Linked DNA regions of Homo sapiens. The protein of the gene in region 1 interacts with the protein of each later gene in a pairwise test. Each region holds a gene or a part of one and is shown in the gene's direction. Other genes may lie near its edges.

The links.
Region 2: the proteins of LSAMP (region 1) and THAP3 interact in binary tests that used the Homo sapiens proteins (3 or more experiments, as listed by UniProt).
Region 3: the proteins of LSAMP (region 1) and CENPV interact in binary tests that used the Homo sapiens proteins (3 or more experiments, as listed by UniProt).
Region 4: the proteins of LSAMP (region 1) and CD248 interact in binary tests that used the Homo sapiens proteins (3 or more experiments, as listed by UniProt).

What each region holds. Positions count from the first base shown.
Region 1 is NC_000003.12:116,434,952-116,442,775, reverse strand, and holds part of LSAMP (limbic system-associated membrane protein isoform 1 preproprotein), read left to right. Parts: intron 1-7,824.
Region 2 is NC_000001.11:6,620,522-6,628,491, forward strand, and holds the start of THAP3 (THAP domain-containing protein 3), read left to right. Parts: upstream 1-4,346; 5' UTR 4,347-4,433; intron 4,434-4,628; 5' UTR 4,629-4,697; coding exon 4,698-4,771; intron 4,772-7,970. Other genes in the region: PHF13 (PHD finger protein 13), read left to right, coding at 890-1,116. UniProt on the Homo sapiens protein: Component of a THAP1/THAP3-HCFC1-OGT complex that is required for the regulation of the transcriptional activity of RRM1.
Region 3 is NC_000017.11:16,342,817-16,350,640, reverse strand, and holds part of CENPV (centromere protein V), read left to right. Parts: intron 1-611; coding exon 612-710; intron 711-1,955; coding exon 1,956-2,025; intron 2,026-5,929; coding exon 5,930-6,044; intron 6,045-7,699; coding exon 7,700-7,824. UniProt on the Homo sapiens protein: Required for distribution of pericentromeric heterochromatin in interphase nuclei and for centromere formation and organization, chromosome alignment and cytokinesis.
Region 4 is NC_000011.10:66,314,045-66,321,771, reverse strand, and holds CD248 (endosialin precursor), read left to right. Parts: upstream 1-4,727; 5' UTR 4,728-4,744; coding exon 4,745-7,018; 3' UTR 7,019-7,278; downstream 7,279-7,727. UniProt on the Homo sapiens protein: Cell surface glycoprotein involved in various biological processes including angiogenesis, immune response modulation, and tissue remodeling and repair. Participates in pericyte proliferation through positive modulation of the PDGF receptor signaling pathway.

The sequences.
Region 1 (7,824 bases):
AAACACAGAACCACTTATTCTCTGGGAAAGAAAAGACAGACAAACAGAGCATGCAAATAAGTCGCCTATGAAACACCATTTCTTTTCCAGACCTCACCTTACATGCCCTCTTTTTTATTTCCTTGCCTTGGACAAGGGTTTATTTTGGGGTTGGTGGAGCTTCATCAGAATTAACTATGGAGAGAATTCCCTTTGTCTTCTTAGCTGACCTTCTTCTCAATCTCTTTAAAACCGGTAAGCTTTCTGGGTCAGTTTCCTGGTGAAGAATGGTGCTCTTGCTTTCTGCTTATAAGGCCAGCCTGGGAAAGGTGTGTTTTCACTTTATTTGTGACATTTTACTGGGTGCATGAGCTTTCAGGGAAGGAAAGGAAGGAGAACTTGATTCATTGGAAGCCACAGTAGATGTCTGGCACCGAGAAAGTGAAATGGCTAGGAGAAAAAAATAATTCTCTTAGTGAGTTTGTGGCCCCGAATGATATGAGATGGCAACAGGAGACAAGGGAGGTTTGTAATTCTGGTAATCCAGTGACAGGAGTTTGGCTGTCTGTCCCCAAAACATTTACCTTCACTGACTTAAAGTTTTCTGTGAAACAAGAGTTTCTTTTGGGGATTGATGCTCATTTTTGTATAATTATGATCTTTAGTGTAATTATGCATCAGATAGGAGAGTGCACACTAGGCTTCAGGTCTTGCCCTCAATTTCTATCATTTTGAAAATAATAAAAACTATATAATTATGGTGACAAAATTGGAGGGAAAGAGAGGTAGCTTCATGTATACATACCTAACTCAATTATTTTCTAGAGGAGATTACAGACCTGTGTGAGAAATTATATAAAGAACTAAAGATAACCACAATACCAACTTCTGTCCCAGGGACAAAGAATCAAAGTGTGATTCACAGAGTAGTGGCGGCAGCAGCAGCAGCCTTGGCGGTCCTCCCTAAATAGAACAACCAGAATCTGCATTTATATTTGTGTGTACAGGAAAGAGTGAGACACGCTTATCCGCAGGACTTCAGTCATGAAGCTGCCTCAGGTGCTTTTCTAAACAGAGTCTACCTGCCTCATTACCAGCTCCCACAGGAGTAAGAGTTCAATTACAGGATAAGTTTCTAACACTGTTTCTTCCCTCCTACCCTCATACCCATAGAGATTCACCTCCTGCTTAATATTGGAAGGTTGAGACTATGTATTAATAGTTCTCTTACAAGTCAAAGAATAGCAGAAATAGAGGGTATTTCAAACCAACCTTTAAAATTTCATTTTTAATAGTCCTACTGACCATATTTTCAACATGAGTGGCAGATTTCTGAAAAGATAATAATAAAATATTTGGCCACAAAGAACCATGTTAGTTTTATAATACATTATATTATCACATATCTATTCATAAGGCAACTTTGTAAAACGTACATACACATGCGTATCTGGATATAAAACAAGTAGGCATGTGATAAAATACAGGGACTTCACACTTGTGATTTTAAATATTCTAAATTCAAGGTAATAAAATTTTATTTAGCTCACAATTCTGACCCTATCTGATGTTTACAGGATATTATAATACTTTTAATGATAATAACATTGTTCCCAGTTAAATGTTAGCGTACCTAACAAGTATTACAGATTCCCAAGGAAACTAAGTATCTAAATGAAGAATAGCTAATGTTTAGTTTTTTCAAAGTTGGGGTCTTTAATTCCCTGTTTGTTTCTACACCAAGGGGGGAAAAGAAGAAACAACAAAAGGAGATTTGATTATTTGATAGTGAAATATAAAGATCTTGTTCAAATTTCTGTTTATCTTCTGTAAATCATGTGGAATGGCAATATTCACTAATGAAGTGTCAACCCTCAAATTCTTGATACGATATGTGATTTTCTATGACTTACAATTCACTATTTGAAACAAACTGTGGGCATGGGCCTACTGGGTAAGTTTGTGACCATCATGAAATTTTCTTTTTCTGTAGTTAAATCACTAAATGTTATCAAAATTTGTTGGTTAGCCCTGATACTGTAAGGATCGTGCATTGCAGATAAATCCTTTATCAAATATACTTAGTAAATGATGGAGTATAGCATACTATATATCATCTAGGAATATGGCATATTATATACATTTTGTTAAAGAATATTTATGTACCTGTGAGCTTTATCATTTGTTGTCATTTATGGCCTGAGAAACAGAGTGGGCAAATCTCGCAAGAAAAGCAAATTGTGGCCACCTGTGTTTCTGTAAGTATGGGACATATAAGTGGGTTTATACACACATACAATACACAGGAGATTTTTATTTTATGTGGTTTGACTTAGAATGACGTATTTGTAGAATTGTGGAAAGAACCAAAGGTGACTGACTCATCCACTGAGTCACTGGTGAGGGTTAAACCTTTGTGTTTCTCAAAGCTGATTCCACATAACAGCAAACTCTGCCCAAAAAGGATTAGTGCATTTTACCCTGGTCTCTGAGAGTGCCAAATACAAAGGGCTGTGACTCCCCTGATAGGAGGTTGCCTCAATATCCTTGTCCCTCTCCCTGTCATCATCTGAGCCTCAGAGATATCCCTCCTCCAGGGCATAATTTACAGCTTATAGCCACTGGCCCTGTTTTTCTCTCAATGTCCTACCTCTTAGTTTGTACGACTCAGAAGATCTGGGCTCTGAATTTGGATCTATCCTTGCATGCTGTAACTTTAAGCAAGTCTCTTGAATACTTTGAGCTTCATTTTCCTTTACAAAATGCTGAAACTGTCAGCTGGGTGCGGTGGCTCACGCCTGTAATCCCAGCACTTTGGGAGGCTGAGGCGGGGGGATCACAAGGTCAAGAGATTGAGATCATCCTGGCCAACATGGTGAAACCCCATCTTTACTAAAAATACAAAAACTAGCTGGGCGTGGTGGCGCCCACCTGTAGTCCCAGCTGCTTAGGAGACTGAGAAAGGAGAATCGCTTGAACCCGTGAGGCGGAGGTTGCAGTGAGCCAAGATCGCGCCACTGCGCTCCAGCCTGGCGACAGAGCGAGACTCCGTCTCAAAAATAAATAAATAAATAAAAATGCTGAAACTATCTATTTTAGTTACCCTACAGGGTTGTTTTAAGACGTTCACAGGAGGTAAGGTAGAAGTTTGTTGAATTATAAAGTGCTACACAAATGTAAACAATCAACGGCTTTTCAACCACATACAGCCAGTTATTTAGACTTCAGAGAATTCTTTTTTCTTTTTTCTTTTTTTTTAGGCCAGTGTGTCTCAAATTTCAGTGTGTATGTGGAGGGCTTGCTATAGCAGATTGCTTGACCTCCATCGCTAGAGTTTTTGAGTCAGTAGGTCCCTGGTAAGTCTGAGAATTTGCATTTCTCACAAGTTCTCAGGTGATGCTGATACTACAGGATACTACAAGTGTGATCCACAGGTGGGCATCTTAAGTATCACATAGTTGCATTAAAAAAAAAAAACAACAAAATCTCAGGACCTATGCTGGAGGGACTAAATCAAAGTCCACATTTTAATAAGACTTCCAAGCGATTCGCTAGCATATTGAGGTTGGAGAAGCACTGCATTCGATACTTCACAGCCACGGGAGCACAGTACCATCAGCTGGGGAACTTCTAAAAAATACTGCTGCCACATATCCTCTCTTCTCAGAAATTCTGATGTAGTTTGTTTGGGGAAGGGACTGGGCACAGGTTGTCGTTCTTTTGTTTTTTAATGATTCTGCTATGTACATAGAGGTAAAAACCAATGCCTAACTGGATAAGGAGTCTCCTTTACAGATCACTTTCAGGGCAGCACTAAATAGATATCAGTAAAAAAATTGGAGTCACATTGTATCGTTTGAGAAATATATCAGTAGCCAAAGATGAACAAATTCAAACGGGAGAGAGGAAATAGACCACCATAAACCCATTTGTTTGTTACACAATTTCATCCTTATGAGCCATGGAAAATGGGGTGACTTTATTTAATATGGATCAGATTTACATAACGTCTATGGAAATAACATAAAGCTTATTATTCTGTGCTGTCTCTCATTTGGGTTAGACAAGGTACAGAACTGTTCTAAGTTGTTTTTGTTGTTGCTTCTAATGCTATCACTAAGGGAGAAAACAGACAATATTTAGACAAGGAAACTGGCTTCTGTGCCAACATATTCAAGCACAGTAAATTCTGTGCACTTATATATATGAACATGTGATTTGCTAAATAATTGTATAATTCATCTCAATTTTATATAGTGATTTCTCTTTAGTTGAAACTTATAGAAAAGCCTATGTCATAGATAAAGACTTTTCATAAAGGATGTAATAAGTTCAAAATGGTCAACAAGTAGTCAGAAGATCAACCTCTTAATAGCATGAAATACTGTAATTTATTAAATAAAGATAACTGACAACTATTTTTGCCTACTACACAAGCTATTTTTATGATCAAATGATATTGTATGTATCAAAGTATTGTATAAACTCTATAATGGTATAAACTATAAACTCTTAAGACTATAGTCATATATTTACAGCAGGATATAACTTTTAGAAAATTTTAAAAATGTAAGAAAACAAGCCTTTTATTCTTATTTCTATGCTATACACAGGCCATTTGCACTACGATGTTTTTATTATGTCATTTCAAGTCCTTTAAAGTCACAAGTATCTTACGATATAGTTGAGTTTCTTATCAGGAGTGCAGGGCAAGTAGACTTTTTTTTTTTTTTTTTGTAGTTACCTGTAATTAAAACTTAATCTCCAGTTAATGTGTGATTAACCTTTACAAAATAAAACACTTTACTTCAGATTTTGTTAATTACTGTAGGAAAACCTCATAGATATGTAGAATAGGAAAGGCCTTGGAGATTAGGCAGTCCACCATCTCATTTTAAAGTGTTTTAACTGAGAAGAGAAAAATTTAGTTCGTTATCCAAAAACTTGAGTGATCAATTGAGAATTAGAACTCATGTATTTTAATTTTCATTTCACAGTACCACTGAGATTACCTTTTTGGTTTTCATTTTATCTGATGAAATGCCATTTTTATTATACATAAATGTATCCTTAAAATTGTCTTTCTCTCCTCTTCCTTCCTCTCCTTTTCTCTCCTCTCCCCTTCCCTTCTCTCCCTTCCTCCTCCCTCCAATTCTTCCCTCTTGCCTTCTCTCCTCCCTTCTCCTCTCTCCTTCCTCTCCCCTTTTCCCTCTCTCTTCTCCCTGTAAATCAAATCTGCATTTACCTGTGGAGGATCATCCAGTTAGTGCTGGTCAAGGAGGATTTGTTTCAAGGAAATGTCCCATCTTGCACATGTCTACTATCTGTCTGTACCACATGGGTTTTCCTTCCTCCACTTGCAGCTTCCAGCTTATTGGTTTTTATTATTTTTTTTTCCATAAGTTATTGGGATACAGGTGGTATTTGCTTACATGAGTAACTTCTTTAGTGGTGATTTGTGAGATCCTGCTGCACCCATCACCCGAGCAGTATACACTGCACCATATTTGTTGTCTTTTATTCCTCGCCCCCCTTCCCCCAAGTCCCCAAAGTCTATTGTATCATTCTTATGCCTTTGTGTCCTCATAGCTTAGCTCCCACATATCAGTGAGAACATATGATGTTTGGTTTTACATTCCTGAGTTACTTCATTTAGAATAATAGTCTCCAGTCTCATCCAGGTCATTGCAAATGCTGTTAATTCATTCCTTTTTATGGCTTAGTATTCCATTGTGTGTGTGTATATATATATATACACATATATATATATACACACACATATATATACACATATATATATATGCATATATATATATGCCACACTTTCTTTATCTACTTGTTGATTAATGGGCATTTGGGTTGGCTTCACAATTTTGCAGTTGTGAATTGTGCTGCTATAAACATGCATGAAACATGCGTGTGCAAGTATCTTTTTCGAATAATGACTTCTTTTCCTCTGGGCAGATATCCAGTAATGGGATTGCTGGATCAAATGGTAGTTCTAGTTTTAGTTCTTTAAGGAATCTCCACACTGTTTTCCATAGTGGCTGTACTAGTTTACATTCCCACCAGCAGTGTAGAAGTGTTCCCTGATTGCTGCATCCATGCCAGCGTCTATTGTGTTTTGATTCTTTGAGTATGGCCATTCTTGGAGGAGTAAGGTGGTATCACATTGTAGTTTTGATTTTCATTAGTAATGTTGAGCATTCTTTCATATGTTTGTTGGCCATTTGTATATCTTCTTTTGAGAATTGTCTATTCACATCCTTAGCCCACTTTTTGATGGGATTTTTTCTTACTGATTTGTTTGAGGTCACTGTAGATTCTAGATATCAGTCCTTTGTCAGATGTATAGATTGTGAAGATTTTCTCCCAGTCTGTGGGTTGTCTGTTTGCTCTGCTGACTGTTCCTTTTGCTGTGCAAAGCTCTTTGGCTTAATTAGGTCCCAGCTATTTATCTTTGTTTTTATTGCAATTGCTTTTGGGTTTTGGGTCATAAAATCCTTGCCTAAGCCAATGTCTGGAAAGGTTTTTCCAATGTCACCTTCTAGAATTTTTGTAGCTTCAGGTCTTAAGTTTAAGTCCTTAATCCATCTTGAGTTGATTTTTGTATAAGTTGAGAGATGAAGATCCAGTTTCATTCTAGCCAGTTATCCCAGGACCATTTGCTGAAAAGGGTGTCCTTTCCCCACTTTACGTTTTTGTTTGCTTTGTCAACGATCATTCCCAAAGCTGTTTTTGCATTTGGTAGAACCTCTATAAGGATCACTTGTTCCTCACAACCCCGGCCCCCTTTTAAGAAAATTCTTTTCCTCTTTTTTTCTGGTACCTCTGCCTGTTACTCAGTCTTCTCATCTGAATTTGACCCTTTCTCCCATTTACTACAGCCGAGTTTCTAAACCTGCTGCCTTCTTATTGTTATTTATGAACTTCTGCCTGGTTAAGTTTCCTACCACTGTCCCTCTCAGAGGGACCCTGATTAGGATGGATGTAGATATTCTTTGAACACCCTCAAGAGGTTCTCTACTCATTATAGTCCTTGTAGATTTATTATTTAAGATCCTTTGAGGAAGGCAGAACTTTTTTCCCCCAATAGATACAAAATTTACCTTGGGCTAACAATGAAGCTGATGGTGGCCAATTGGGAGGAACTGGGTATAGATCCAGCTCTGGCTCCTGAGTGGTGAAGACAGTGTGCAAAAAGCCCTTTTGCAGGTGTCTAGTGGTTTCTGGTGTGGCACGCAGGACAAGATCTCTTGAGGTTTTCTGAGCAGTGAGAGTGAGAGGTGGAGGCAGAGATATCCAACAAGGTCTTATCAAGAGAAGGACAAAGCAGAATAAGGAGAAATAACAGGCCAGCACCCCCTAGGTAGTCCCATAGGGAGGCAGGCAGGGGTGACACGGAGGTTATCAGCTGATGGTGAAGACTCAGTTACAAGCCCCAGGAGTTCAGGAAAGGAACAGAGTCCTTGGGACAAGAGCTGACTTGAACTTGAGTCCTCAGGAATTAGGGACTTAGACCTGAGCACATTACCAAGATGGGTAACCTAGTTAAGGAGTAAAAGAGAGGGTCCCAGTTTTTAGAGCTGAAGCTCTGTACCAAAGCTATAGTAACCCAGGGATGACTTGAAGGTTAATCTCAGAGCACGGAGCTCTATCTTTTAAAACTCTTACTGTATAATCTCAGATCATAAAACCTGGTCTAGCTCTGTGGGGAAAAGATGGAGACAAAGGTCTGACATTAAGTAAGAACTGAACTAGTGCTTCTTCCTGCTTTGGTTAAGTTTACCAGATCACATCTTCAGTCTACTTAGAACTTCCAGACTTCATGGAGTTGGCAGAATG
Region 2 (7,970 bases), on another chromosome or scaffold:
TTGCCACTAGAGACAGCTGAGATTCTAAGACCTTAGAACATAAAAAGGGTATAGTTCTAAGTAAGCATCCAGGTAAGCATCCAGGCCGGGCACGGTGGCTCCACCAGTAATCCCGGCACTTTGGGAGGCCAAGGCAGGTGGATTGCTTGAGCTCAGGAGTTGGAGACCAGCCTGGGCAGCATGGCAAAGCCCTGTCACTGCAAAAATACAAAAAAAGGCTGGGCGCAGTGGCTCATGCCTGTAATCCCAGCACTTTGGGAGGCCGAGGCAGGCAGATCACGAGGTCAGGAGTTCGAGACCAGCCTGACCAACATGGTGAAACCCCGACTCTACTAAAGATACAAAAAAAAAAAAGAAAAAATTAGCTGGGCGTGGTGGTGCGCGCCTGCAATTCCAGCTACTCAGGAGGCTGAGGTAGGAGAATTACTTAAACCCAGGAGGTGGAGGTTGCAGTGAGCCAAGATCGCGCCATTGCACTCCAGCCTGGGCGACAGCAAAACTCCGTCTCAAGAAAAAAAAAAAAAACAATAGTCGAGTGTGGTGGTGTGTGCCTGTAGTCCCAGCTATTTGGGAGGCTGAGGTGGGAGGATGGCTTGACTGCAGGAGTTTGAGGCTGCAGTGAGGTATGATTGCACCACTGCACTCCAGCCAGGGTGACAGAGTGAGACCCTGTCTTAGGGAAAAAAAAAAAAAAGTAAGCATCTCCTGGGTAATACCTGGTTCCCACACATTTTGGAGCCCCTCGTGCCTTTTCAGAGAGAAGTGTCAGCTTCGAGTGGCAGTTGGAAGTGTTCTCGTCAGTAGAGTTAATGGGTTTCATGGAAGCCCAGCTGATGGCGAGGAATGATGGGAATTTCTCTTCCCTCCTTGAGAGTATCTTTCCTTCCAGATGACGATTCCTGGGACCTCGTGACCTGCTTCTGCATGAAGCCATTTGCCGGCCGCCCCATGATCGAGTGTAATGAGTGCCACACCTGGATTCACCTGTCCTGTGCGAAAATCCGGAAATCCAATGTTCCAGAAGTGTTTGTCTGCCAAAAGTGCCGGGACTCCAAGTTTGACATCCGCCGTTCCAACCGCTCGCGGACGGGCTCCCGGAAGCTGTTCCTGGACTGACTGCTGGCTGGCGAGGAGGCTGCGAGCGTGGAATCGGAAGCGACCGCGGGCTTTTTTGCCCTTCTCTTAGTTGAGCACAGAACCCTCAGCTCTGGTGCGGGCAGATCCCTGCCATTTAGGTGCCTAAGCAAAAGGACAGGCTGTCCAAGGTAGAAACTGTACATAGCCGGTGACCGAATGCGACCTTTGCCAGCCAGAGCTGCTGCCAGAGCTGCGTTCCCTGCAGTGGAGGTGGACTGGACACCCACGTGCAGCGGGTTTGGCTCATTTGAAAATGAGGGTCCGTGGTAGCTGTGCGTTTTGCTATCATTGCTAAGAGATTCCCGCTGATTGGGCTCAGTGCCAGCTGTTATTCTGCTTCCACTGTGTTGGGGAGAGGTGTTCGGTTTCCCCAGCCTGTTAATGAACAGCCATACGTGTAAGCTTTTTCTTGAGTGTTAAGTCTTTTACCAAAAGTGTCTGTACAGCAGCCATCCAAGTTGCCCCTACTTAGTGGCTTGCCCTCTGCCTGCCTCAGCTGCTGCCTGACCGGCTGGGGGAGGCACTGGCGGGAGGCCTCGGGCTCCCCTGGAAGGGCGCTGGGCTGGCGGGTCAGCTGGTGGTTCTTAGGTTTCCTTCTGTTTGTTAAAAGGGACAATGTGGCCACTTCTCTGTGGAAAGGGAGTTGGTTGGGGGGTTGAGATGGCCCGTGTTCATAACTCAGTTTCCTGTTTTGCACGATGTAAAAACCCTGTCTTTTTGCACGATACAGCCAAAAGTATTGGCTGATTTCTTGCTGAGTGCCCTCTTAGTTGGTGTGTGAGGTCTTGGTGGGCTCAGGCCAGCTGTTTGCGAGTGTGGGAACTCATAGGTTCTGTCTTTGTCTCTTCCTTTCACCTCATTCTGGTAGCAGCATAAAGGTTAGGCAATCACTGGGACCCGCATGGTGTTCCTCCAAAGAATAGGGTAAAGGAGAGCTGGGAGGGAGCCCTCTCCGTTGGGTGACTCTTGTGTGCCCTTTAGACAGGCTGGCCTGCCGGTTCCACAGGGTACAGTTAGGACTTGAGTCTTTCTTTTTCTGTTTTGAGTTGGTGAGTGAGTGATAGGGTAACATGGGCCTTCAGGATGACCCCTTGGAACTGTGCCGAGTTCCTTAAATCTCAGCTGGGATCCTGGACCTGGGAGGCCCCTGTGAGGGCCAGCTCTGGAAAAACCTGGGAGTTGATGCCGGAGGCTGTGGAAGAACTCTGCTCGAGGGCAGGGTGCCCTGGAACACTGGTAGTTCTGGGGCTGGGAGGGAGAGGGGCTCCGGCTTTCTCTGAAATGAACACTGCTCTTCAGCAGTTCAAGTACTTGTTCTCAAAACATTTTCTAATTGATTGGTAGGTTTTCATAAGCATTGTTTCTTTAAGGCATGGAAAGGGAAGAATGCTCAAGCAAGTCATGTTTGTTTTCAGTGGGATGGGCCCGCGTTCTCACTGCTGGGGGCTTCCCCTTCATGTGGCACCTTTGTGCCAGGCCACCAGGCAGACTCTTCCCACCTTCTCCCACTGAAGCACCAAGGGGCTTGAACCGTAATTTGGCTAATCAGAGGCATTTTTTTTGTCCTAGTATCTTTCACACTTGTCCAACCGTCTTATTTTTTTAAAAGTTCTGTTGCTTGTATTAACACGAAACTAGAGAGAAATAGTTTCTGAAGCCAGTTTATTGTGAAGATCCCCAAGGGGGAGGTTCGGTAGAGAAAAATAGTAAGCTGGTTTAGAAACTGACGAGGGCAAACAGCCAGGACGCATTGGAGAGGAATTTGCCAAAGATCTACCCTGAGATAACGCCTGTCCAGTGTCTTCACCACGTGAATAACCAGCGCTCCAAAGTGTTTTTCTGCTTTGAAAAAAAAAAATTCCACAAGCTTTTAAAGGTGCATTTAAGAATCCATGTGACTTTAGAATGGAACTGCCGGCCCTGGCAACTGTCACGTGTGCTAGAAGGTTCGATGCCTCTGGAATGCATGTGATACTCATCTCCATTTTGTTTCCTTGATTGCATTTTTGTTCTTTTAGCAGATCTGTCCCTGTGGGTGGTGTCTAAGAAGTCGGACACCTTGGTTTTTGTGTTAGATTGAGCTGGGCAGCTGCAATCAGCTTCTTTATATGCAAATTAGGCACGACCCATCTGTGGTTCCTGGTTGGTGGCTAATGAAGTGAGGGGAGGGAGGGATGTCACCCCAAAAGTAGGCCCTCCCATTGGCTTTGGCCAGGCCAGACACTTCACATCGTTTACATGGTTCTGTGTAATTTTAAAGTTTATGTGTATAAAGCGAAGCTGTTTCTGTGAAACTGTATATTTTGTAAATAAATATATTGCTACTTTGAGGTTCATGATTCAAGGTTCAGGCGATTGCGTTCTGTGCTGAAGGACAATTGTGTTTCTTTTCTCCTTGCTACCTCCCCAAAGCATGATTACATCAAGTCTCTGGGAAGGCAGCGTCTCAGTGTGCACTTAGCAGGATGGAAAATGCCCACGGTGTTAAGGTACCTTGCTGGTGAATTCCTTAGAAACAAACCACAGGACGAGTAGATGTGAATGGTTTTTGCAGTTTCTTCATCAGATTGAGGATTAGCTCAAGCCCCAGTGAGTGGTTAGCCTACTTTTGATTTTTTTTTTGTTTTTGAGACTTGAGTTTCGTTCTTGTCACCTAGGCTGTGAAGTGCTGTGATGAGATTTTGGCTCATTGTAACTTCCACCTCCCGGGTTCAAGAGATTCTCCTGCTTCAGCCTTCCGAGTAGCTGGAATTACAGGTGCCCGCCACCATGTGCGGCTAATTTTTGTATTTTTAGTAGAGATGGGGTTTCACCATGTCGGTCAGGCTGGCCTTGAACTCCTGATCTCAGGTGATCCGCCTGCCTCGGCCTCCCAAAGTGCTGGGATTACAGGCGTGAGCCACTGCGCCTGGCCGATTTTTTTTTTTTTCTTCTTACAAGATGACGCCTTCCCTATAGGCTGCTTTGAGAAAGCTGCAGCCTCGGAGTTTCTGCAAGGCCTGAACTGGAATCTCCCTCCCCTTCAGTTGCCCTTTTTGCCTCTTCACGTTTGGGGGTTCCCTGTGACCAAACTTAAGGGCAGTGAGCTGTCTGGCCTCTGAACTGACACCACCAGTGGCCAACTAGTACCACCTCCAGTGACGTCAGAGGAGTCCAGACCTATTCACAATTCAAAGCCCTAAAAACACTGAGGGGTTGGCCGTTGGTTTCCAGTTGTCCAAGCCTGTGAGTGGCTATGCGTCCTGGTTGGGTGCTCAAAGCAAGGAGGTGAAAGGCGACCAGCATTGGCGAATGGGGTAAGACTTGCACAGGCCCAAGGCTAGGAGTTGGGGTTTCGGGCCTGAATTGGGGCCCGGAGCACCCCTTTACGTGGCGCCCCGGGTCCCGTCCGACCCTGGGGAGACGCGGGTGGCTGGGATGGCAGGATGAGCGCGCCCTGGAGGCGAGCCAGGCCCGTCACCACCTCCCAGCGGCCCCGCCCCTCCCCGCAGGTCCCTCCCCTCTCCGCAGGCCCCGCCGCCGCCGCCATCTTTGTTGGGGGCAGCCAGGCCTGGCTCGAGATGCCGAAGTCGTGCGCGGCCCGGCAGTGCTGCAACCGCTACAGCAGCCGCAGGAAGCAGCTCACCTTCCACCGGTAAGAGGCGGGGACCCGGGGGCGCGGGAGGCCCAGACCCGGGGCCCGCGGACCGACTCCGAGGCCTTGGCGCGCCGGGCGGGAGGCCCAAAGGCGTGCGGCCGCTGGGCCCGGGGACAGGCCGAGGTCCTGGGCCCAGAGGGGCTGGCGCCGCCGCGCCCGCCGCGGGGATGCGGGGAGTGGCGGACGGAGGGGCAGCGGCGCACCTGGCGGGGCCAGGGCCGGGACGTGCAGGGAGCGGAGCAGGTGTTTGCTGAACAGACTAGCGGGCCGCGGCCGGGGTTTGCTGTGTCCCTGGTCGCTGCAGCCCCCGCCGCGCGCGGTCCTGAAGGGAGCCCGGCACCTGGGCAGTGCAGTGGAGGAGTGGAACCCCCAGGGGCGTCCTGGCAGTGGGAAGGGACTCTGCAGGGTCGCGGGAGGACGCTGGAGACTTTGGAGTCTGCTCCAGCACTCGCCCGGCCCGGCCCGGCCCGGCCCAGGAGCAATCGTCATTAGTCACAGTTGCGCTTTCTCCAAGGTCCAGTCACGGCACCATTTCTCTACCCACTTTTGGGCACATTCCGAAGGGGGGCTTGTGCTCATCGTTCCCATTCCCTCTGCTCCCATTGTTCTGTTTTGTGATAAATGCTTTGCTTGAAGTATACGTAATGTACATGCAGAAAAATGCACGAATCATAAGTATACAGCCCAGCGAGTTTTCCCCAAGTGAACGTCACTGAACTGAAACGTTACCAGCTGGGCGCGGTGGCTCAAGCCTGTCATCCCAGCACTTTGGGAGGCCGAGGCGGGAGGATCGCTTGAGCCTGGGAGTTCGAGACCTGCCTGGGCAACAGAAGGAGACCCTACCTCTACAAATAATTTAAAAAAATTAGCCAGGCAAGGTGGTGTGCCCCTGTAGTCCCAGCTGCTCGGGAGACTGAAGTAGGAGGATCGCTTGAACCCAGCTTCGAGGCTGCAGTGAGCTATAATCTTGCCACTGCACTCCAGCCTGGGTGACAGAGCGATACCTCATCTCAAAATAAGAAATAAAACATCACTACCCCCGAGAAGAACCCCTACCTGGACCCCCTCCCAGGCCCTCCTCCTCTCTCCTGCCCAAAGGGAACCCTATCCTGCCCGCTATCAGAGTGGATTGCAGTTCATTCGCTTTCGTTGCCACATAATATTCCATTGAATGCAAGTGCCAGAATTTACTGATTTGTTCTACAATTGAAGGGCATTTGGGTGGCCCCATTTTTTGGATGACAAATACATGGTTCTGGAGGCTGGGCGTGGTGGCTCACGCCTGTAATCCCAGCACTTTGGGAGGCCGAGCTGGGTGGATCACCTGAGGTCAGGAGTTGGAGACCAGCCTGACCAACATGGTGAAACCCCGTCTCTACTTCTCTACTACAAATACAAAAATTACCCGGGCGTGGTAGCGCGCACCTGAAATCCCAGCTACTCAGGAGGCTAAGGCAGGAGAATCACTTGACCCTGGGAGGCAGAGCTTGCAGTGAACCGAGATCGCACCACTACACTCCATCTTGGGCAACAGAGCGAGACTCCGTCTCAAAAAACAAAACAAAACAAACATTGTTTTGGCCAGTTTTGGTGGGACTTGTGTTGCAGTGCATCTATCTGTTTTGCCTCTGTCAGGTATGTACTTGGGGATGGAGTTGCTGCGCCTTCTCTCTTGAAGTCGTTTCCTCCACTCCCACGAGAGCTCTGTCACATCACTAGTGAGCCTTGTGACACTGATCGATTGCATAGCATTTCACACAACTGACCCCTGAGCCTGGGTCACTTTTCCCGCATGGCGTCTGGTACACTTCTTGGCCACAGGTGTCTCTTCTCAGTCTCCTTTGCTGGATCCTCCTTATTTCCAGCACTAAGTGTTGGAGCCCTGGGGTGTGGGCCATGGCCCAGGGGTGGCTTCTAGCCACACTTGCTCCCCAGGGGCCCATCTCACCCAGGCTTATCGGTTCCGCAGGGTTGGCCGCCACACTGACATCTCCAGATGCGTGTGGCCGCCTGTCACCCCAGCACATGGAGAGCCTAAAAAGCACCTCAAATTTAACTCCTGACATAAAAAACAAACTTCTTTTTTTGGAGACAGACTCTCACTCTGTTGCCCAGGTGGAGTGCAGTGGCGCAGTCTCGGCTCACTGCAGCCTCTGCCTCCCTGGTTCAGGTGATTCTTGTGCCTCAGCCTCCCAAGTAGCTGGGATCACAGGAGTGCGCCACCACGCTGGGCTAATTTTTGCATCTTTAGTAGAGATGGGGTTTCACCATGTTGGCCAGGCTGGTCTTGAACTCCTGAGTTGAGGCAGTCTGTCTGCCTTGGCCTCCCAAAGTGCTGGGATTACAGGCGTGAGCCACCATGCTCAGCTGCTACAAAACAAACTTCTGATCCCCTTAACCTGCCGTCCTGTAACTTAATTTTATCTCCAACATGAAACTCCTTCCTTCTCAATTTTACCATCTACAGGCAAACCTTACTGCATGGCTTTCAAAATACATCCAAGTCTGCCCTCTCATTACCACTTCCTGCCAATGCCTGGTCCCACAGCAGCCAGGGTGGACCCAGGTTCCATCTCACCTCTGTCTAGAGCCTCCAGGGACTCCCCAGCTGCTCAGGGCCCTGCGTCATGCAGTCCCCACTCCCTCTCGCTGTCTCAGCTGGACCTGCGTGAGTGGCCGTTCCTGCTGTCCCTTCTGAAGCCTGCGTCGCTTGTGCTGCCACTTCCTGCGGTCTGTGCTCAAACATCACCCCTTCAGCTGCCTCTCCTCACCACCCCAGGGCTTCCCTCTGTCTGTTCTCTGGAGCAGCTGTCATCCCCAGAAGACACCGTCCACATCTGTGTGGCTCATCACTGTGCCCCCGCTCCAGAATATCAGCTCTTGGGGGCCAGGACTGTCTCATTACCCCCCATCCCTAGCACGAAGAACAGGGCCCGGCTCCTGGTAGGCTCCTGGCAAATGTAGCATCGGAAGCAGCTCACTTGGGCTCTCTGGCCATGCTCGTGGTCTCGGGTTTCCTATTAAGAGTGCTTTAACAGCTGTGACAGAAGCTTCCAGAAATTAGATGTGATTTAATAAACCGAGAGGACTGAATGTCCACAGCTGTCCAGGGAAGTACTCTGTAGTGATGTGAAAATTCCGAATGACTCTGAGGCGCTGGGTCCAGCCTTGCTGGGCCTCACACCCCGTGCCTCTG
Region 3 (7,824 bases), on another chromosome or scaffold:
AGGCCCGGAGCAGTGGCTCACGCCTGTAATCCCAGCACTTTGGGAGTCCCCGTGGGTGGATCACAAGGTCAGGAGTTCAAGACCAGCTTGGCCAAGATGGTGAAGCCCTATCTCTACTAAAAATACAAAATTAGCAGGGCGCGGTGGCAGGCGCCTGTAATCCCAGCTACTTGGGAGGCTAAGGCTGGAGAATTGCTTCAACCCAGGTGGCAGAGGTTGCAGTGAGCCAAGATCGTGCCACCGTACTCCAGCCTGGGCAATAGACTGAGACTCCATCTCAAAAAAAAAAAAAAAAATTTAGTATTTGACATATAAATAAAAATGTCTGGTGGTGGGTTAGGATCCCTCACATTTTCGAAATGTTTGGAATGTTTTATTTTGCAACTTAATATAATTTAAGAAATTGGTGAAAAGAGAGCTCATGGACAAAGAAGGTGCTGAAACCATTCTTCACTTAGGAAATTGACAGTGCCTCCTTAAAAGCAGAAATGCATCTGGTTGTCATGTAGAAAAGACTTTTGTCTAATCTTCTGTCTTTCTTTCAGCAACAAAAAGAGAGCAGGAGGCAGCTATTCAGAAATTATTATCTTTCTGATTTTTGTTTCATTTAGTGAATACCAGGGCCTGGTGAAGCACACAGGAGGCTGCCACTGTGGAGCAGTTCGTTTTGAAGTTTGGGCCTCAGCAGACTTGCATATATTTGACTGCAAGTGAGTATTTTTTTTTCCCTAAATTGGCTTAAAAGAATTTCAGAGTTAAAATGCAATATTTCAAAATAATCTGGGGAGTTGGGGTACAGAGGAAACATTGGCCTTGGGCTGGTAACTGTTGAAGTCAGGTGATGGGGACAGAAAGGTTCATTGTTCTATTTTTGTTCCTTTTATATGGCTCATCACAGAGCTTCAACAGCATGGCCCAGGTGACACAGAGCAGGGTCCTCAGGGCTTGTGGCTTGTGGCAGCATCACCCTCAGACTGACACTGCTGAGGAGCCGGGGGCGGTTAGCTGCAGGTGTGCCTGGCTGGGTACTGAGTGGAAAGCCTTGGGCAGAATCTTCATAGAAGTCTAGAGTTGGGGAGAGTTGGAGGGTATGTTAGTAAAGGGTGTATACACCTGGAGGCTCCCCAGGCCCTCCACTCTCGCTCTGCTCTTCGGTTGAGGCAGATGGCACTGCTGGCTGTGGAGGGCCTGATTTGTACCACCTTCCCCGGCGTTATGATGGAGCAGGGACGACAGGCTCTGGCTTTGGGACCCAAAGTTGGCATGCAGCTAATTATTTAACAGCATCCAGTCCTTTTTGCCCCTAGGTACCGGAATTATATATGAATAATAAGCACATACGATGGAATTACTCAAATGGAGAACTGACCAGGCTACTAACAATAGAGTCCAGATTGGAAAAGAAGCACTGTGGAATAACTTGTGAGAGGATTCTGTGCTAAATTAGAACTTTTTCAAAGGTGGCCTGAAAAGAGGGGACTTCAGTTTAATTCCAGAGATGGTAATTCTGGGGACGTGTTTTACTTGGAGCTGGACTTCTTGTGACGTGGTGATGAAGAAAGAGGGAAACCTAAACTTCCTTGTCCATTTTTGGTGTGGATGTCTCAGAGACATCAGGTTGTAGCAGTGTCTGAAATTTGTTTCCTAAGTGTCTCTGAAGTCCAGCGCTTCTCTTCACTGTAAAGAACTGAGGGGTGGGCAGTACAGACCTGTCTGTTGGTCCTGTGTTCTGAGCATTGCAGAACCTCGACTGCTGACTTGGGACCCCCCTGGGCTCTGCTGTACCTGCAAACCAGAGGCACTGCTATCCAGGCCTTTGCCCCAGCTCCTCGGCCCTGGATGGTGCTGAAAGGGGCATCATCTGTGGGGTCGGCTGGCTCTCATGGCTGGGCCGCTCAGGCATAGAGGATGCAGGTGGCTGCTCACAATCTGGAATTTGCTCTGTCTTTCTGTAGTTGCAGCATTTGCAAGAAGAAGCAGAATAGACACTTCATTGTTCCAGCTTCTCGCTTCAAGCTCCTGAAGGTCAGTGCTTAAGAGCAGGGTCAAGGAGTGCAGAACCCATTGGTGAGATTTACAGGACCCCCCACCCAACTGTTAGCATGCCGTCTGTAGCATGGGAGGGGCCTGGAGCATAGCAGGGCCTCTCACGGGCTTTGGTTTCAGGTTGACATTTAAAAGGTGGGCCCGGCACAGTGGCTCACGCCTGTAATCCCAGCACTTTGGGAGGCCAAGATGGATGGATCACCTGAAGTCAGGAGTTGAGGACCAGCCTGGCCAACATGGTGAAACCCTATCTCTACTAAAAATACAAAAATTAGCTGGGCGTTGTAGTGCATGCCTGTAATCCCAGCTACTTGGGAGGCCAAGGCAGGAGAATCACTTGAACCTGGGAGGTGGAGGTTGCAGTGAGCCGAGATCACACCATTGCACTCCAGCCTGGGTGACGAGTGAAACTCCATCTCAAAAAAAATGAAAATAAAAAATAAAAGGTTGTGTTATTTTTTACCTTTATTTTTTGGAGGCCTATTTGGTATTGTGGAAACATTTTCAAATTCAGAGAATCAAAAAACAATAAAATCACCCAAATCCTGTCAACTAAAGGTAACCACTGTTAATATTTTGGTGTCTGTCTTTGTGTATTATTTTCTACTCTGAGAAATACATCTAAACCTATTGTCTTATGTTTATTAAGTAGAATTTTACCATTCTTTTTGTTGATAAACTGCTTATCTCATTTCCCAATGAAAAGCTTATATACTTATTTGTAACTTTAATTTTATTATTTTGGGGAATTTTTTGTACTTGGTACAAAATTTGAAAGGTAGAAGAAAATGTGTATATACACAGTGAAAAATCTTTCCCTACTGTCCCCATGCCCCAGTCTCCCTCTTCCCCACAGCCGATTTCCTGGTCTACTTACCCCATCACTGTCTCTGCATCATTGCAGTTGAGTCCCGTTTTTTTCTGATTATCAACAACACTGGTGAACCTCCTTGGTATACATTTTTGACAATTTAGAAATTTCTTCTTTAGGATCAATTCTCTTAGAAATAAGTTCTCTGGCTATTCTGGGCACACTTCCTACACCCTGCTCTACAAGGAGCAGTTAAAAAAAAAGAGAGAAAGAAAATCTCCAGGTTAAAGAATACAGATTTTTTAAAAAAGACTTTTAGCACATTATGGGTAATGTGGGGTTGGGCGGGGCTTTAATTCCATCCAGATAATGCTGGATGGCTTGGGACCACTTGGCAGTCCTTCGCTGCTTTTCTGTGCTGCAGTGGCTATGGAGTGAGCAAGGCTCCTCAGGGAGCTATTTCTATAGGAAGCACAATTCTGGACGGTATGGCTGGGGAAGCGTAAAGAGGGTTAACAAGGATAAGAAACCTCCACCCCTTCCCCTTCAGCTGTCTGATTTCTCTCCCTAAAGGTAAGCCACTGTTTCTTGGATCCCTCTTCAAAGATACATATGCATATAAAAGCACATACAGGCCAGGCACAGTAGCTCATGCCTGTAGTCCCAGCACTTTGGAAGGCCAAGGCAGGCAGATCACTTGAGCCCAGGAGTTCAACACCAGCCTGGACAACATAGCGAGACCCCCATGTCTACAAAAAATAAAAAATCGGCTAGGTGTGGTGTTGCATGCCTATAGTCCCAGGTACTCGGGAGGCTGAGGTGGGAGAATCACTTGATCCTGGGAGGTCAAGGCTGCAGTAAGCTGTCGTCATACCACTGCACTCCAGCCTGGATAACAGAGTGAGATCTTGTCTCAAAAAAACAAAACAAAACAAAACAAAAACACCACACATACCAGTATATAGCCTTAAAAAAAAAAAAAGAAATGGTAGCATACCACGTACGTTGTTTTATACCTTGCTTAACTTTTTTTTTGAGACAGTCTCACTCTGTTGCCCAGGCTGGAGTGCAGTGGTGTGATCTCGGCTCACTGTAACCTCCGCCTCCCAGGCTCAAGTGATTCTCCTGCTTCAGCCTCCTGAGTAGCTGGGACTACAGGTGCCCGCCACCACATCTGGCTAATTTTTACATTTTTAGTACAGACAGGGTTTCACCATGTTGGCCAGGCTGGTCTTGAACTCCTGACCTCAAGTGATCTGCCCACCTTGGCCTCCCAAAGTGCTGGGATTACAGGCGTGAGCCACTGCGCCTGGCCTATACCTTGCTTTACTTTGTAACTTTGGCAATTGTTCCATGTTAGTTTTGTAGAGCTGTCTCATTCTTCTCAAAAGTTGGAGAATATTTCATTTTATGAGTGTCCATAATGCCTAACCGGTCCTCTATTGAGGGACATTTTCAATTTTTCCAATCTTTAGCCTTCATAAACAGTGCTATAGTATCTATATACCTATGTCATTGAGACATTTGGAATATATCTGTATAATAAATTTCAAGAAATGGAATTGTGTGCTAAAGCATATGTACACTTTAAAATTTTGGTAGATGTTGCTAAATTGTACCAATTCCTGTTCCTGTGACTGATATATGTGAGCACATATTTCTCTACATACTTGTCAATACCATGTTAACGGCTTTGATTTTGCCCACCTGACAGTGAAATACATCTCATTGAAGTTCCTTTGGTGAGCATTTCATAGGCTAAAGAGTGATTTATTTTTCTTTCTATCTGAACTGTCCGTTCATGTCCTTTGTCCAGTCTCCCGTTTGTATTATCCATTAAGGAAATTAGCCTGTCTATGACGTCTGGCAAATATTTTTTTCCTGGTTTGTCCTTTGTGGATAAATTAAGCACAGCCATCAGTTTTCTTAAGACCTTGAGCCGTTCTGTTTGGGGACATGGAGAGCCAGTCCCTTGGGTGAACTGTCTCTCCACATAGGCCCTGGGAAGCAAGCACTTTCCCTCCCTGATGTGATGTATCAGGGAAGGCTCAAGGCTGAATTCTGTATGCCGTTGACCTAAGGGAAGCTGTGAGCTGTCACGCTCCAGACTGACATGTCTCTGGATAGTGTAGATGGGTCTCTGTCCTCAAGAAGGTCCCAGTCTCTTCTGGAGATAGGAAATGGCCTCTTAGTACAAAGAGCCCTACAGAAGAGCTCCTGCCATTAAGTTATTTCAAGATTTTTTTTTTTAATGGTGCGATCTCAGCCCACTGCAGCCTCTACTTCCCCAGGCTCAACTGATGCTCCTACCTCAGCCTCCCAGGTAGCTGGGACTACAGATGTGTGCCACTGCACCTGGCTAATTTTTATATTTTTTTGTAGAAACAGGGTTTTGCCATGTTGCCCAGGTTGGTCTTGAACTCCTGGGCTCAAGCAATCCGCCTGCCTCGGCCTCAAAGTGTTGGGATTACAGGCATGAGCCACCATGCCTGGCCAAAGGTGTTTTTTTTTTTTTTTTTTTTGAGACGGAGTCTCGCTCTGTTGCCCAGGCTGGAGTGCCGTGGCATGATCTCGGCTCACTGCAAGCTCGGCCTTCCAGGTTCATGCCATTCTCCTGCCTCAGCCTCCCGAGTAGCTGGGACTACAGGCGCCTGCCACCACACCCGGCTACAAAGGTGTATTTTTTAAGTGACATAAAAATAAATGTCTTTGGGGCCAGGCGCAGTGGCTCACACCTGTAATCCCAGCACTTTGGGAGGCCAAGGTGGGTGAATCATGAGGTCAGGAGTTCGAGACCAACCTGGCCAACATGGTGAAACCCTGTCTGTACTAAAAATACAAAAAATTAGCTGGGCATGGGGGCACGCGCCTATAATCCCAGCTACTTGGGAGGCTGAGGCAGGAAAATCTCTTGAACCCATGCAGGTGGAGGTTGCAGTGAGCCAAGATTGCGCCACTGCACTCCAGCCTGAGAGACAGTGGGAGACTCTGTCTCAATAAATAAATAAATAAATAAATTAAATAAATAAATCTCTTTGTAAAAAAGAATACCGTTTGTCTGTTTTCACCTAGGGAGCTGAGCACATAACGACTTACACGTTCAATACTCACAAAGCCCAGCATACCTTCTGTAAGAGATGTGGCGTTCAGAGCTTCTATACTCCACGATCAAACCCCGGAGGCTTCGGTGAGTAAAGGGGATGGACTGCAAGCTCAGGGGGACACAGAGAGGCCCATGGTGCTCTCATTTAAAGTCTTATTTGGACAGGTGGGATGCTGACTAGACCCTGTCACATGCGTATCTTAGAGGAACAGGGCTCCTCAGCAGAGCGCTTTCCACATGATAGAATGTGAGTCGGGCTCCGGTGAAACTTTTCTGAATCCCATATCTGAATGTGGTGAAGTTGGACTTGGAGCCCATCCAGGTTGTGATTCTTATTCACTGGTGCTGGTAGAGCTGGTGTTGCTGGGGATGGTGTTGAAGGGTAGGGAGGAGAGGGGTGAGGAGATGGGCTTGTGGGGCCAGGGGAGGCAGCTTTAATAATGACAGGGGTTAAGGGAGTGAAGGAGGCAAGATTGGGGAGCATTGATAATGGCATTTGAAAGCTTTTTGGTTGTTCAAAAATTAGGCAGGACTGGCTGGCTGCGGTGGCTCACACCTGTATCCCAGCACTTTGGGAGGCCAAGGTGGGAGGATTTCTTGAGCTCAGGAGTTTGAGACCAGCCTGGGAAACATAGCAAAACCGTATCTCTGTTCTTTTTAAAAAATAATAAACAAGCAGGGAACCCTCCAAGCCCCGCTTCAGGGCCTGCTTGGGTCTGGGGAGTAATAAAACTAACCCTCTGACAGTTGTTGAGAATCATACCAACTATAGTGTGAATTGAAGGGGAAAGCAGAGGTGGAAGATGTTCTGAGGACTCTTGTTGTGTCAGTGCAGCCTCCAGAGCTGCGAGAGCAGCTATGACTGTCAGTGTCTTTTGCCTTATGGTGGTGGGGAGCGGACAGGGGAGGTGGGGGAGGCAGGGCAGGGCAGGATGTCATCCTTACCGCTCCCCCATTGCTTCAGGGCCTCCTGTTCCTCATCTGTCACATGGAGACTCCTTCCTGTCTACCTTGCAGAACAGGAAAGAGTTGAAAAGTATGAAATCCTGTGCAAATGGGAAGACATTTAATTCTTAGAAAGTTATCTATCTGAGGCCAGGCATGGTGGCTCACCTGAGGTCGGGAGTTCGAGACCAGCCTAACCAACATGGAGAAACCCCATCTTTACTAAAAATGCAAAATTAGCCAGGCTTGGTGGCGCACGCCTGTATTCCCAGCTACTTGGGAGGCTGAGGCAGGAGAATCACTTGAACCCGTAAGGCAGAGGTTGCAGTGAGTCAAGATCACGCCATTGTACTCCAGCCTGGGCAACAAGAGCTAAACTCCATCTGAAAAAAAAGGAAAGAAAGTTATCTATCTAAACACAGGAAAGGCCTGTGAATTCTTCAGGCTGCCAGTCAGAGATTGCTCTGGGCTGTGCCTTTCTGCATGTTGTACTCTCAACTTGGTATTGAATGTTGTCTAGCCTTGGCCAAACCTGGCTCAGGGAGTGTGATTCCCATCTGGCAGTTGAGGAAAGTGAGTCAGAGGGCTGAAGCGGTAGGCTGGAGCCAGTGCTTTCCGAGCCAGCTGGCAGCCTGTGGGTCTCATCACTGAAGCCATAAGCTGTGGCATATCCTTTGGAAGCCCTAATGTGTAGCGTGATGATGCCTGCAGGTGGGGGCTTATCCAGGAGCCGGTACACCATCTGGTCTCACCCATACTGAGGATCCCCCTTTGTCTGTGCCACTTTCTCGTAGGAATTGCCCCCCACTGCCTGGATGAGGGCACTGTGCGGAGTATGGTCACTGAGGAATTCAATGGCAGCGATTGGGAGAAGGCCATGAAAGAGCACAAGACCATCAAGAACATGTCTAAAGAGTGA
Region 4 (7,727 bases), on another chromosome or scaffold:
GGGAACATGACATTTGGCAATGTCTGGAGACATTTTGGATGGTCCAACTGGAGGGATGCCACTGGCATCTACATAGGAGCCAGGAACACTGCTAAACACCTTGCAATGCACCACGCAGTCCCTACAACAAGTAATTACCGAGGCCTGAATACCAGTAACTCCAAGGTTGAGAAACACTGGCTAGGGGAGATTTGGGCCATAAGCAATAAGCAAATCCACAAGTAAATTTCTTTTTCTTTCTTCCTTCCTTCCTTCCTTCCTTCCTCTCTCTCTTTCCTTTCCTTCCTTCCTTCCTTCCTCCCTCCCTCCCTTCTTCCTTTCCCTTCCTTTCCCTCCCATCCCCACCCCTCCCTTCCTCTCCTTTCCTTCTTCCTTCCCCTTCTTTCTTCTCCTTTCCTTCCTTCCTTCTCTCTTTCTCTCTTTCTTTTTAAAAAATTTTTTTTATTATTATTATACTTTAAGTTTTAAGATACACATGCACAACGTGCAGGTTTGTTACATATGTATACATTTGCCATGTTGGTGTGCTGCACCCATTAACTTGTCATTTAGCATTAGGTATATCTCCTAATGCTATCCCTCCCCCATCCCCCACCCTACAACAGTCACCGGTGTGTGATGTTCCCCTTCCTGTGTCCACGTGTTCTCATTGTTCAATTCTCACCTATGAGTGAGAACATGCGGTGTTTGGTTTTTTTTGTCCTTGCGATAGTTTGCTGAGAATGATGGCTTCCAGCTTCATCTATGTCCCTACAAAGGACATGAACTCATCATTTTTTATGGCTGCGTAGTATTCCATGGTGTATATGTGCCACATTTTCTTAATACAGTCTATCATTGTTGGACATTTGGGTTGGTTCCAAGCCTTTGCTATTGTGAATAGTGCCGCAATAAACATACGTGTGCATGTGTCTTTATAGCAGCATGATTTATAATCCTTTGGGTATATATCCAGTAATGGGATGGCTGGGCCAAATGGTATTTCTAGTTCTAGATCCCTGAGGAATCACCACACTGACTTCCACAATGGTTGAACTAGTTTACAGTCCCACCAACAGTGTAAAAGTGTTCTTACTTCTCCACATCCTCTCCAGCACCTGTTGTTTCTTGACTTTTTAATGATCGCCATTCTAACTGGTGTGAGATGGTATCTCATTGTGGTTTTGATTTGCATTTCTCTGATGGCCAGTGATGATGAGCATTTTTTCATGTGTTTTTTTTGGCTGCATAATTGTCTTCTTTTGAGAACTGTCTGTTCATATCCTTCGCCCACTTTTTGATAGGGTTGTTTGCTTTTTCTTGTAAATTTGTTTGAGTTCATTGTAGATTCTGGATATTAGCCCTTTGTCAGATGAGTAGGTTGCAAAAACTTTCTCCCATTCTGTAGGTTGCCTGTTCACTTTGATGGTGGTTTCTTTTGCTGTACAGAAGCTCTTTAGTTTAATTAGATCCCATTTGTCAATTTTGGCTCTTGTTGCCATTGCTTTTGGTGTTTTAGACATCAAGTCCTTGCCCATGCCTATGTCCTGAATGGTATTGCCTAGGTTTTCTTCTAGAGTTTTTATGGTTTTAGGTCTAACATGTAAGTCTTTTCTCTTTCTTTCTTTCGTTCGTTCTCTCTTTCTGCCGAGACCAGCTCGGTCGGGGAGACCCTAACCCAGCGGTGCTAGAGGAATTAAAGACACACACACAGAAATATAGAGGTGTGAAGTGAGAAACCAGGGGTCTCACAGCCTTCAGAGCTGAGAGCCCCGAACAGAGATTTACCCACGTATTTATTAACAGCAAGCCAGTCATTAGCATTGTTTCTATAGATATTAAATTAACTAAAAGTATCCCTTATGGGAAACGAAGGGATGGGCTGAATTAAAGGAATAGGTTGGGCTAGTTAACTGCAGCAGGAGCATGTCCTTAAGGCACAGATCACTCATGCTATTGTTTGTGGCTTAAGAATGCCTTTAAGCGGTTTTCCGCCCTGGGCGGGGCCAGGTGTTCCTTGCTCTCATTCTGGTAAACCCACAGCCTTCCAGTGTGGGCGTTATGGCCATCATGAACATGTCACAGTGCTGCAGAGATTTTGTTTATGGCCAGTTTTGGGGCCAGTTTATGGCCAAATTTTGGGGGGCTTGTTCCCAACATCTTTCCTTCTTTTCTTTTTCTCTCCCGCTCGCCTCTCCCCTCCCCTCCCCTCCTCTCCTCTCCTCTTTTCTTTTCCACAGTCTTGCTCTGTCGCCCAGGCTGGAGTGTGCAGTGGCGCAATCTTGGCTCACTGCAACCTCCACCTCCCAGGTTCAAATGATTCTCCTGCCTCAGCCTCCCGAGTAGCTGGGATTACAGGTGCACCACCACGTCCAACTAATTTCACAAGTAAATATATTTAATGTCAGATAGTGATAAGTGCAGAGCGAGAAAATGCAGGAAGATCCAGTGGTCAAGGAGCCCCAGGGGGCGGTGTGGGGTGGGGTGAGATGGTCAAGGACTCTGGTACTTGAGCTGAGCCCTGGAGAAGGTAAAGAAGCAGAGCATTTTTATATTGGAGGAAGAGCATTCCAGGCAGCAGGAACAGCCAAGACCAAGGCTGTGAGGCAGAGTGTCTGGAGCATTTAAGGAACAGCAATGAGGCCAGAGTTTGGAGGCAGATGACATAGACCAGGAGGCCATGGCAAGGACTGTGGCCCTTCCTCTAAGCGAGATGGGGGGCTCAGAGGGTTCTGAATGGAGAAGTGATCAGATCTGACTTGGATTTTGAAAGGATCCCTCTGGCAGGATGGAGAGGGCAAGAGAGACACCACGGGAGAGGCTGTTGGGGAAATCTAGATTGGCGTTGCTAGCCACCTGGGCCGGGGGTGGGTGGCAAAGAAGGTGTCCAGGAGTGGTCAGATTCTGGATCTCTTTTGAAAGTGAAGCCAACAGGATTTGCTGAGAGACTGGATGTGGGCTGTGGGAGAAAGAGAGGAGTCAAGCATGACCTCAAGGTTTGGGGCCTGAGCCAACAGAAGGATGAACTCCTCCATCTTGACTTTTGTCTCCTGAGAAGGGGAGTCATTCTGTGTGCTTCACATGTATAGACCTTGTAAGAAGGAACTTCCAGGCATATGGCAAGAACTTCCTAAGCCCTGGTTCTCGAGGGGCTGGCTGGGTCTGCAGGGCCAGCCTAGGCACTGTAAGGTGGTTTGCAAAAACGCACCCTGGTCTCCACCCACCACATATGCTCAGAAGACAGGAACATTTGCTTCAGGCTCCACAGCTGACAAAGCACATTTGCAAACACTGAGCGCTGTGACGCAATATCTCAGCCCTGCTGAGCTAAAAATCCTGGACTCATTGCCCTCATGTTGCAACTGAGAAAAAAGGAGACCCAGAGAGGGCCAGTGACTCCCCTGCAGTCACAAAGTCGATCCATCTGTGGCAGAGGGGGAAGCTGCATCAGGGCAGTTTACTGAAGGGCGGAACCTCTCCCCCACCTCCCCACACTGTTTCTAACTTCTGCTAAGAGTGCAGCGGGTGTGCATGGGTTAATCCGCCAGCCAGCTCCCCAGAGGCCATCCTGGATGATGGGCTCAGTGCACATGCCTCCAGAGGCCTCCAGGAAGGGCGGGAAGAGGACCCTGGCCAGGCCGAAACAGCAGGCCCCGGGGGCAGGGAGGGCTCCACACACGTGATGCCTGTGTCACATATACACATATATGTCACTGTGTGCCCCATGCCCATACATGGCCTTGCATGGGTCCCCTCACAGCCTTCCACATCCTGCGTGCAGCCCAGCCCCCACCCAGCCCCCTAAACCACGCACCCTGCCTTCCTGACGCAGGAGCCCAGAGAGGCATTTCCTGTTTAGGGGCTGCCTCCTCCCCCTCTAAGCCCAGGTTCCCAGGGCCCCAGGCTGAGCTGGGGTGAGGGGAGGGCAGCCCCTGGCCCCCTCACTCCCCCAACACCCCCACACGCTGGCCCAGCTGGAACCAGAAAGCTTGAGTATAGGGGGAGAGGCTGACGCAGGGGCTCAGTAAATAAATGAGAGGCTGAGGATGCCTGTGCCTGGGTGACCAAGCTGTTTCCATTCAGGCCGAATCGGAGGTCTTCATATGTCAGGCCATGTAGAATGCCACACCATTTTTGTATGTGCACCTAGGGTCTCAGCATGTCAGAATGTGTGTACGTGTGGCAAGGGAGTCATCTGCAAGCCAGCATAGGTCCACGGTGAGGTGAAGGGACAAACAGCTTGGCAGAGAGTGCACTCTTGCATGGGGTTGGGGGTGGGGGAGGCGCATGCGCGCGTCTGTGGGGCAAGAAAGGAGTGGGCATGAGGGTGTTCCCGTGCATGGCGAGCAGCTGGGCTGAGACTGCTCCCGGGTGTGATGGGGCTGCTGTGTCCAGATTTGGGTCTCTGAGTCTCTGGGAAGCGACCTCACCCCACAGCCCCGAGCCCCAACTTGAGGGTCACAGAGCTCGGCAGGCAGGCTTTTCCCACCCCCTGACTCTCAGCCCCATGGGGCCTGGGGCAGCCGTCAACTGCGCCTTCTCCCCTCCTCCGCCCCCAACCTTAGAGCCCCCCACCCCACTGCTTCCTGCTCTAGCGGCCCCCGGGGAAGAGGGAGCAGGGAGCTGGCAGCCGCCCCAGCCCACTCCTTACAAGGCCTGAGCCCGGCCCCAGGCCCGCCCCCGGCCCGCCCGCAGGAGGCCCCAGGCCCTCCCCCTGTCAAGAGCTGCCGCCAGCCCGGGGCCGGACCAGTCCGGGGGCATCGCGATGCTGCTGCGCCTGTTGCTGGCCTGGGCGGCCGCAGGGCCCACACTGGGCCAGGACCCCTGGGCTGCTGAGCCCCGTGCCGCCTGCGGCCCCAGCAGCTGCTACGCTCTCTTCCCACGGCGCCGCACCTTCCTGGAGGCCTGGCGGGCCTGCCGCGAGCTGGGGGGCGACCTGGCCACTCCTCGGACCCCCGAGGAGGCCCAGCGTGTGGACAGCCTGGTGGGTGCGGGCCCAGCCAGCCGGCTGCTGTGGATCGGGCTGCAGCGGCAGGCCCGGCAATGCCAGCTGCAGCGCCCACTGCGCGGCTTCACGTGGACCACAGGGGACCAGGACACGGCTTTCACCAACTGGGCCCAGCCAGCCTCTGGAGGCCCCTGCCCGGCCCAGCGCTGTGTGGCCCTGGAGGCAAGTGGCGAGCACCGCTGGCTGGAGGGCTCGTGCACGCTGGCTGTCGACGGCTACCTGTGCCAGTTTGGCTTCGAGGGCGCCTGCCCGGCGCTGCAAGATGAGGCGGGCCAGGCCGGCCCAGCCGTGTATACCACGCCCTTCCACCTGGTCTCCACAGAGTTTGAGTGGCTGCCCTTCGGCTCTGTGGCCGCTGTGCAGTGCCAGGCTGGCAGGGGAGCCTCTCTGCTCTGCGTGAAGCAGCCTGAGGGAGGTGTGGGCTGGTCACGGGCTGGGCCCCTGTGCCTGGGGACTGGCTGCAGCCCTGACAACGGGGGCTGCGAACACGAATGTGTGGAGGAGGTGGATGGTCACGTGTCCTGCCGCTGCACTGAGGGCTTCCGGCTGGCAGCAGACGGGCGCAGTTGCGAGGACCCCTGTGCCCAGGCTCCGTGCGAGCAGCAGTGTGAGCCCGGTGGGCCACAAGGCTACAGCTGCCACTGTCGCCTGGGTTTCCGGCCAGCGGAGGATGATCCGCACCGCTGTGTGGACACAGATGAGTGCCAGATTGCCGGTGTGTGCCAGCAGATGTGTGTCAACTACGTTGGTGGCTTCGAGTGTTATTGTAGCGAGGGACATGAGCTGGAGGCTGATGGCATCAGCTGCAGCCCTGCAGGGGCCATGGGTGCCCAGGCTTCCCAGGACCTCGGAGATGAGTTGCTGGATGACGGGGAGGATGAGGAAGATGAAGACGAGGCCTGGAAGGCCTTCAACGGTGGCTGGACGGAGATGCCTGGGATCCTGTGGATGGAGCCTACGCAGCCGCCTGACTTTGCCCTGGCCTATAGACCGAGCTTCCCAGAGGACAGAGAGCCACAGATACCCTACCCGGAGCCCACCTGGCCACCCCCGCTCAGTGCCCCCAGGGTCCCCTACCACTCCTCAGTGCTCTCCGTCACCCGGCCTGTGGTGGTCTCTGCCACGCATCCCACACTGCCTTCTGCCCACCAGCCTCCTGTGATCCCTGCCACACACCCAGCTTTGTCCCGTGACCACCAGATCCCCGTGATCGCAGCCAACTATCCAGATCTGCCTTCTGCCTACCAACCCGGTATTCTCTCTGTCTCTCATTCAGCACAGCCTCCTGCCCACCAGCCCCCTATGATCTCAACCAAATATCCGGAGCTCTTCCCTGCCCACCAGTCCCCCATGTTTCCAGACACCCGGGTCGCTGGCACCCAGACCACCACTCATTTGCCTGGAATCCCACCTAACCATGCCCCTCTGGTCACCACCCTCGGTGCCCAGCTACCCCCTCAAGCCCCAGATGCCCTTGTCCTCAGAACCCAGGCCACCCAGCTTCCCATTATCCCAACTGCCCAGCCCTCTCTGACCACCACCTCCAGGTCCCCTGTGTCTCCTGCCCATCAAATCTCTGTGCCTGCTGCCACCCAGCCCGCAGCCCTCCCCACCCTCCTGCCCTCTCAGAGCCCCACTAACCAGACCTCACCCATCAGCCCTACACATCCCCATTCCAAAGCCCCCCAAATCCCAAGGGAAGATGGCCCCAGTCCCAAGTTGGCCCTGTGGCTGCCCTCACCAGCTCCCACAGCAGCCCCAACAGCCCTGGGGGAGGCTGGTCTTGCCGAGCACAGCCAGAGGGATGACCGGTGGCTGCTGGTGGCACTCCTGGTGCCAACGTGTGTCTTTTTGGTGGTCCTGCTTGCACTGGGCATCGTGTACTGCACCCGCTGTGGCCCCCATGCACCCAACAAGCGCATCACTGACTGCTATCGCTGGGTCATCCATGCTGGGAGCAAGAGCCCAACAGAACCCATGCCCCCCAGGGGCAGCCTCACAGGGGTGCAGACCTGCAGAACCAGCGTGTGATGGGGTGCAGACCCCCCTCATGGAGTATGGGGCGCTGGACACATGGCCGGGGCTGCACCAGGGACCCATGGGGGCTGCCCAGCTGGACAGATGGCTTCCTGCTCCCCAGGCCCAGCCAGGGTCCTCTCTCAACCACTAGACTTGGCTCTCAGGAACTCTGCTTCCTGGCCCAGCGCTCGTGACCAAGGATACACCAAAGCCCTTAAGACCTCAGGGGGCGGGTGCTGGGGTCTTCTCCAATAAATGGGGTGTCAACCTTACCCAAGGCTTCTGACCCCCACTGGTGCTTAAGGGAGGTTCTGGGAGGACTCAGCAAAAAGGAGGGGATCTTCCTTCAGTTTGTCTGAGTCCTCAAAGAGATAAGGTAAGATCCCTTTAAGGGAGGGTATGCCTCAGAGATTCTCAGGGAAGCAGGAGCCCAGAGAGGGCAGAGCCTTGCCCAAGGTCACACAGTTGAGCCCAGCAGTGGGAGGTTTGGCATGGGGAGAATTTCATATTTATTCCTTATTTTACCAAAGCTCCAAGAAGGTGGGGCTGAATCTGGGGGACGGTTGTGGAATTAGGGCATCTGCTGAACCGGACTGGGGTTTAGGGGTCAAAGTAGGCTCTGGGGCTGGTGATTCAGAGGAGTGAAGGAGGGGTCTAGTGGGTGAGTTGCTCCTTTCTTCAGACACTTCCCTTCCCATCCCTGTAAGCTTCGCGGAAGTTG